Linked DNA regions of Homo sapiens: regions 1 and 3 are each linked to region 2. Evidence: fine-mapped expression QTL. A gene starts in region 2. Each other region holds a variant in brackets. All regions are shown on one strand. Distances are between the middles of the regions.

Evidence for each region. PIP is the estimated chance that this variant, and not a neighbour inherited with it, causes the effect.
Region 1: its variant is fine-mapped to the expression of FN1 in lymphoblastoid cells (TwinsUK, PIP 0.95).
Region 3: its variant is fine-mapped to the expression of FN1 in blood mononuclear cells (TOPMed, PIP above 0.99).

What each region holds. Positions count from the first base shown.
Region 1 is chr2:215,277,025-215,279,872 of GRCh38, reverse strand. LINC02862 (long intergenic non-protein coding RNA 2862) reads right to left here. Exons shown (of 3, transcript NR_174956.1): 2 at 2,190-2,265; 3 at 1,926-2,104. Among named protein-coding and RNA genes, the nearest start is that of LINC02862, 3.5 kb to the right of the region's middle. The variant G/A (reference allele first, on the strand shown) is at 1,511.
Region 2 is chr2:215,434,562-215,437,061 of GRCh38, reverse strand. It overlaps FN1 (fibronectin 1), which reads left to right and starts at 994. Exons shown (of 46, transcript NM_212482.4): 1 at 994-1,407; 2 at 2,238-2,366. The coding sequence starts at 1,260. FN1-DT (FN1 divergent transcript) reads right to left here and starts at 1,371. Exons shown (of 2, transcript NR_187198.1): 1 at 753-1,371; 2 at 1-143. RefSeq lists silencers at 811-900, 911-970 and an enhancer at 2,483-2,500.
Region 3 is chr2:215,503,969-215,506,816 of GRCh38, reverse strand. No RefSeq gene overlaps it. Among named protein-coding and RNA genes, the nearest start is that of FN1, 69 kb to the right of the region's middle. The variant A/G (reference allele first, on the strand shown) is at 1,246.

The sequences.
Region 1 (2,848 bases), 160 kb after region 2:
CCTCCCTCCCTCCCTTCCCTTTCCTTCCTTCCCTCCCCTTCCCTTTCCACCTCCCTTCCCTTCCCCTCCCCTCCCTCCCTCCTTCCCTCCGTCCCTCCTTCCCTCCTTCCTTCCTTCCCTCCCTCCCTTCTTCCCTCCTTCCTTCCTTCCCTCCCTTCCTCCCGTTTTCCTTCCCTCCTTCCCCTCCTTCCTTTTTTCTATCTTTCACTAAGTGAACCAGTCATCTTTCAATTTTTTTTTTTTTTCTTGAGACAGAGTCTCGCTCTGTCGCCCAGGCTGGAGTGCCGTGGCGGGATCTCGGCTCACTGCAAGCTCCGCCTCCTGGGTTCACGCCATTCTCCTGCTTCAGCCTCCCAAGTAGCTGGGACTACAGGCGCCCGCCAACACGCCTGGCTAATTTTTTTGTATTTTTAGTAGAGACGGCGTTTCACCGGGTTAGCCAGGATGGTCTCGATCTCCTGACCTCGTGATTCGCACATTTCGGCCTCCCAAAGTGCTGGGATTACAGGCGTTAGCCTCCCACGCTGGCCTCATCTTTCAATTTTTAACACATCTGAGGAATATGAATAATTCCAAGTGAAGTAGACATTCATAAAATGCTTTTGTTCTTCCATCATTTAAATCCAAACTTTTCCATGCTGTCTTATTATGTTGGTGCAAAAGTAATTGCGGTTTGTGCCATAACTTTCAAGGTCAAAAACCGCAATTACTTTTGCAGCAACCTAATAGTTTGCTTACAGGAATCTAACAGTCGTTATTCTCTTGGTCAAATTGAAAGCTGAAAAATAATCTTTAAAATATAGATCTCTATGTTTATTTCAAGTCTTCTTGGCATTTTCTAAATTAAATAATTTCATAAAACTAGACCAAAGCTGTATGAGCTAAGATATTTATCACAGTATCAAAATAATTAACATTTACTGAGAAAAGTCAGACACTGTGATGCACTGTTTTATATGCATAATCTTTATTTACTATCACAACCACCCTATGAAGTAGCTTGTATAATAATCCCAATTTTTACAGATGAGAAAATTGCACTTTAGAGAGAGTACGTAACTTGACTAAAGTCACATAGCTAATAAGTGGCAGAGCCAGCCAGGACTTTTTTTCTTTTGTTTGTTTGTTTGAGACAGGGTCTTGCTCTGTGGCCCAGACTGGAGTGCAGTGGCACAATCTCTGCTCACTGCAACCTCTGCCTCCTAGGTTCAAGCGATTCTCCTGCCTCAGCCTCCAGAGTAACTGGGATTACAGACACATGCCACCATGCCCAGCTAATTTTTTTTTTTTTTTTTTTTTTTTTAGTAGAGACAGGATTTCACCATGTTGGTCAGGCTGGTTTCAAACCCCGACCTCAAGTGACCCACCTGCCTCGGCCTCCCAAAGTACTGGGATTACAGGCATGAGCCACCACCGCGCCTGGCCCAGGACTTTATGTATGTGTGTGTGTATATATATATATATATATATATATTTTTTTTTTTTTTTTTTTTTTTTAAGGCAAAGACTC[G/A]TTCTGTCTCCCAGGCTGGAGTGCAGTGGTGCAATCTTGCCTCACTGCAACCTCCACCTCCTGGGTTCAAGCAATTATCATACCTCAGCCTCCCAAGTAGCTAGGACTACAGGCATGCACTACCACACCCAGAATTTTTATATTTTTAGCAGAGACAGGGTTTCACCCTGTTGACCAGGCTTGTCGGAAACTCCTGACCTCAAGTGATCCACCCACCTCGGCCTCCCAAAGTGTTGAGATTATGGGCGTGAGTCACTGCACCCACCACCAGCCAGGACTTTAGAGTCAACAAGTCAAGTCTTTCTGACTCTAAAAGCTCTTCTTAACCTCTAGAAAAAGTAAATATTCAGCAATAGGAAACTCCTCACATCTATTATAACTTCAATATAACAGAATATTATGCAGCCATTGCAAATTATGTTCTTGGTTAATTTTTATTGACTAGAAAATGCTTATATTTTAATAGCAAACAAAAGAATAAGCAAGGTGCTGTGGCTCATGCCTGTAATCCCAGCACTTTGGGAGGCCAAGGTGACAGATAACTTGAGTCCAGATGTTCAAGACCAGCCTGGGCAACATGGTGAAGCTCCGTCTCTACAAAAAATAAAAAAAATTAGCTGGGCGTAGTGGTACATGCCTGAAGTCCCAGCTATTCCAGAGGGTGAGGTGGGAGGATCACCTGAGTCCAGGAGATGGAGGCTGCAGTGAGCCATGATCATGCCAGTGAACTCCAGCCTGGGTGACAGAGCAAGACCCTGTCTCAAAAGCAAACAAACAAAAAAATAAGATTCACACTAATGCATACATTATTATCTCAGCTATGTAGAAATATAAACATTTATGAGCTGGGTGCGGTGGCTTATGCCTGTAATCCCAGCACTTTGGGAGGCCAAGGCAGGTGGATCACGAGGTCAGGAGATCGAGACCATCCTGGCTAACATGGTGAAAACCCATCTCTACTAAAAATACAAAAAATTAGCCAGGCGTGGTGGCAGGCACCTGTAGTCCCAGCTACTCGGGAGGCTGAGGCAGGAGAATGGTGTGAACCCAGGAGGCGGAGCTTGCAGTGAGCTGAGATTGCACCACTGCACTCCAGCCTGGGCAACACAGTGAGACTCCGTCTCAAAAAAAAATAAAAAAAGAAAAGAAATATAACCATATATGAATACCCATAGAAAAAATGGGAAATAGTATATACAAATATTAGGATTGCTTTATTTAAATGTGGTATGATTATGAATGATTTTGCTTTCTTATTACATATTTCTGTAATGAACATGTATTACTTTTATAATCAGGGAAAAGATAACAGAAATTTTTAATACTTATAATATGAGG
Region 2 (2,500 bases):
GTAACTGGCACGGTGAACGTGGGAAAGGACACGAAGACCTTTCTCTCCCCACAGCTGGTCCAACTTTCCAATTTTCAGGTTGTTCACAGTGATTTCACTTTCAGTGGAAACGGGCGTCCCATCCCCAGGAAAGGAAGGCTTTCCTGCATGTGTAAAAAAGTAAACTGTTACTTTGTCCTTGCAAAAGAAAACTTCATTCTCTGAACTTCCCCGGGATCTGCAAAGCGCCCCGCGGAACTCCCGGTACTTAGTAGAAGCTCATTAAAGGTCTCTGTTCCCCTTTGCTCCCCGTTCGCCCGCTGGCCCTTTCTCAGAGCCAGACAGGCACAGCGCTGAGAAGGGAAGAAGTCCGAACAGGGAGCTGTGAAGACAAAATAAGGGAGTCCCGAGTCAGTACCCTTTAGTCCAAAGAAAGGGAGCGGGATGGGGGGAAAGGCAGCCCCGCCCTGGGACTGAAAAGTCTGGATTCTTAACAGCTGCAAGGTCGTGGATATTTTATGGGTTTTCTTCCTCACAAAATACACTCCTATAAGCAGAGATTCCCCCCCTCCACCCCGAAGAGAGGTGACGCAATGTCCTCAAACACTACCACCACCCCCAATAAAAAAGAAAAGGGAAGGGGGAGCGTCTTGCAACCCCTTCGCTTCACACAAGTCCAGCCACTCCCTTTCCTCCCAGCCGCTTCCCATCCCTTCCCCCATCCCCTAAAAAGTTTGATGACCGCAAAGGAAACCGAAAAAAAGTTGTCTTGCCCCAGTCCTGGCGGGCCATCAGCATCTCTTTTGTTCGCTGCGAACCCACAGTCCCCCGTGACGTCACCCGGAGCCCGGGCCAATCGGCGCGCGGTCGGCTGCGGCGGCCGGCGGGCGGGCGGGCGGGTGGGGTGGGGCGGGGCGGGGACAGCCCGGCGGGTCTCTCCTCCCCCGCGCCCCGGGCCTCCAGAGGGGCGGGAGGGGACCGTCCCATATAAGCCCCGGCTCCCGGCGCTCGGACGCCCGCGCCGGCTGTGCTGCACAGGGGGAGGAGAGGGAACCCCAGGCGCGAGCGGGAAGAGGGGACCTGCAGCCACAACTTCTCTGGTCCTCTGCATCCCTTCTGTCCCTCCACCCGTCCCCTTCCCCACCCTCTGGCCCCCACCTTCTTGGAGGCGACAACCCCCGGGAGGCATTAGAAGGGATTTTTCCCGCAGGTTGCGAAGGGAAGCAAACTTGGTGGCAACTTGCCTCCCGGTGCGGGCGTCTCTCCCCCACCGTCTCAACATGCTTAGGGGTCCGGGGCCCGGGCTGCTGCTGCTGGCCGTCCAGTGCCTGGGGACAGCGGTGCCCTCCACGGGAGCCTCGAAGAGCAAGAGGCAGGCTCAGCAAATGGTTCAGCCCCAGTCCCCGGTGGCTGTCAGTCAAAGCAAGCGTGAGTACTGACCGCGGGCTGAAACAGGCTGCCTCAGGGATGGGACCCTAAAGCCGACCAAAGTTGGGGCTGAAGTTTTGTGCGCGCGCGTGTGTGCGAGTGTGTGCGCGCTTTACTGAGAGAAACCAGCTGTGCACACAAAAGGACCGAGTTTTGAGCACGCTGGTTCTGAGGGCCTGGGATGATAAGACCGTGCATTGGAGGACGAGGACTCTGCGACTTTCCCGTGTTCTAATAAATTCTGCACGTTCAGATTGTCCTTCTAGGAATTAACCAAAACTTGCCTTTAAAGAGAAAAATGATGCATGTCTATAAATTTTCCGTCTGGGATTAGTGTGGTCCTTACTGCTACTTATTTCCTTCTGTTAAATAATTGGTCAAATATTTTCAACATGGGGGTGGAAAGGGGGTATTGAAATAGCTGTCTTGTTTCTAACTAACTTGGAAGAGATGTAATTGGTTCAGACCTCTTTAGGGCCGCTCAGGATACTTCACCAAGAACAGAGGTTGGAATTCTTTCCGTTTTTCAAAGACACACCCTCCTTTTGCTTTGAGAAAGCTGCTTAAAGTTGTCCTTTTTGACTATTACTCCAAAAGAATATTTAAGTTCCTTGCATGTTTTAAAAATGTGACTTCAATTGTCTGCCTTCCAAAATGTTTCCAACTTTTTTATGTAGACCCCTGGCCAGATGGAAATGACATCATTGTATATAACTTTTAGCAAAGTTAAAAGGAAAAAAATATGTACGTCAATATTCACATGAAGAAAATTCCATAATTTTGGGAAAAGGAGAAATGCAAATGTAACGTTTTCCTTCAATTATTTGCAGCCGGTTGTTATGACAATGGAAAACACTATCAGATAAATCAACAGTGGGAGCGGACCTACCTAGGCAATGCGTTGGTTTGTACTTGTTATGGAGGAAGCCGAGGTTTTAACTGCGAGAGTAAACCTGAAGGTAAGTGACAACAAGCCCCATAGTTAGTATCTTTTAATACATGAAGTGGTAATTGTTAAACTTTGCATTAGTAAGTAAAAATACATACACCATTTTTCTAATAGAATTACCTGTCATTTCCTCTTAAGTTTAAA
Region 3 (2,848 bases), 70 kb before region 2:
CTTGAATCAACATACCTGTTCCATAATAAGGTGAGCAGCATCTGGCCTTGGAGTTTCACAGACCCACAGCCTTACCACACTCTCTCTCTTTCATCTCACTTTCTATCATATTCACAACCTATTTTAGTATATCAGTGACACATAAGAACTAAGGATATAATAATCATGAAGGGTTTTAAGTTTAAAATACTAACAAATTTTATTTTCAGAAACAGAGTTTAAAGAAGAGGCAAACAATTCATTGCTGCTTTCTTTTTCCTACCTGCATTCTGTCGGACTTGAGCTACATTAAAAATCCAGCTGTAGGCATCAGAAATCAAAAACATTTTTACACAAAGGCACCCCCTTCAGGCTCCTAGTTCCTGCTACTGCCATTTCTTTTGGGTAAACATTCCACACTCCAGAATTTGATTTTCTCTCTTTGCTCTGCCAACACTCTGCACTGTTTTCTCAAAATCTAGTTAACAGAGTAATCTGTAACTATTAAATCTGTTCGATGAATTGTGTAAACCTGCTGATGAGGGATAGAGGCTTTTGGGGGCACCTTCTTCCAGATACCACTGGTGCTCTACTAAGATGCCTTAACACAACTGAATATTCTCCAGCTAGAGGCCCTACCAGGCTGCTCGAAGAGAAGTTTTTTTTTTTGCCTAGTGAGCGTTTCTGGCTTTTTTTTTTTTTTTTTTTTTTTGAAGCGGAGTCTCACTCTGTCGCCCAGGCTGGAGTGCAGTGGCGTGATCTCGGCTCACTGCAACCTCCGCCTCCCGGGTTCACGCCATTCTCCTGCCTCAGCCTCCCGAGTAGCTGGGACTACAGGCGCCCGCCACCACGCCCGGCTAATTTTTTGTATCTTTAGTAGAGGCGGGGTTTCACCGTGTTAGCCAGGATGGTCTCGATCTCCTGACTTCGTGATCCTCCCGCCTCAGCCTCCCAAAGTGTACCTTTTACATTATAAATTCATCACGCCTGTTACTCTGCCTGAATATAGATTAAAAGAACCATTCAGAGCCCACAGAAAAAGTAAAAGTAAAAAGAAGCAAGGTTTGCTGACTCAGGGAGAGTCTGAAAGGCACTTTGGACTTGGCCCTATCTCCCTTCCCACCTCTTTGTCCTTATCTACTCCCCACCTCCTCCTGAAAGCTGCCAGATTGTGACTGTATTTTTGACCCTAGTTCTTCTGAAATTCTTGTGCAATGAGTTTATTACTTTCTTCTGCTCTTGCAGTTTCCTCTCATATTCTTTCAA[A/G]ACGTTTTCTTATGAAATTGTCTTATTCACCCGATTGTAGCCAGCCTACCCTTCTAGAACAGAGGACTCCCATTCTTTCCTGTTCTGTATTTTATCTAAAGCCAATTCCAATTCAGAACCACCTCTATTTCTAAATTTTGATTATACATTAATACGTCTTGTAACATTCCCCATTTGGCTCCTCCAACCCATTTTTTTCTTCCATTAATTGATACAGATCTGAATTCAGAAGTGGTCTTCTAGTGGACTTTCCATAAGTACAAAATATTTATTCCAGCCACAGAGGTTTGCATAACTTTACATCTTGCCTTTGGTATTTATGTCCTCTGTTGGTGAGAAAGTCTGAAAATTTCCCAATGTTCTTGTGAGTTAAGGACACCTCAAGAGCTATTTCAATAAGGTGATTTTCCTACTCCACGTTTGTTTAACATCATGCATGCAATCTAGTATCCTATTTAAGAAGATATTGTCTGTGGATGAGATAGAAGGCAGGGAACAAATTGACTTACTAAATCTTTAGGCAGTAAATAAAGACTTCTTCTCTGAGCTCTTTACCACAAACACAAATAACCCTAAACCCTCATATCCATGTTAATAAATCCAAAACTCCCCTTCTGTCCAACACAGACGATGCCTGTCTTTTCCTAGCCCTTGGAAACAACTATTTAATTACCTGTGTAATTCTCACCAAGTTATTACCCTTTGCCTTATCAGAAAATGTTTTCTGCTCTGTCATTTGGTTTAGTCAGTGTGTTTTTCTTGGAAAGTTTCTGTTTCTGTGTCTCCTGTACCCCCAGAAGACTCACTCTTGGAGTCAGCACATGACATTTTTTTCCAAGTGCAGAGGAAGGGCTCTGTGGCCCCTGCAGAAGAACCACAGCTGTGGCTCTGTGACTTACAGGTGGCGAAGAACTTGAAGGGAGAACAGCCAGGTCCCACTGGCTATTCTGGGATGTTTGAATGACTCAATAACCATTATTCATTAAAAAGTAGGTTCCTGCTGCACTTCTGTCCAGAGAAATCCACAAGGTGCCCATGTGAGAGGTAATTTGGATACAAATCATACCTGCTTTGCAAAGCACCTACCCTTATGGCTTTCAATTTAAGGACCTATTGGAAACCAATGTTCCATTTTGTTCCATCTATGGGCATATTACTGAATATGACAGGCCTCTCCTAAATGACGTTTATTCATACCCCTTGTTCAACCCTACTTTCAGCTCCTGTATGATGACTGCCTACTTCTTTGAGGCTTCCCAGGATCTCCTAAAGTGATTCTTATCATATGCCACATAACCCAAATTCTAAATCAGATCTTCCTAAACAATACTTTCCAAATTTTGTGGAAGTCTATCTAAGAATTTTCATGATACCCACAAATAGGAAACTAATTTTATTTAAAAGCAAAAGTTTGTGGGTCTAAAGGTGTTTTTCTAGTGGCATGGCCTCCTCCATAGGAAAGGGAAGGGAACAGACCTTTAATCCACCAGATACAGCACTACCTGCTTTCTATAATTATCCCTGCATTTTCTCACAGAAACTTTATGGATTATATTGTTAGTCCCATTTTGCAAATAAGAAATGAAGGCTCAGAGAAATTAAC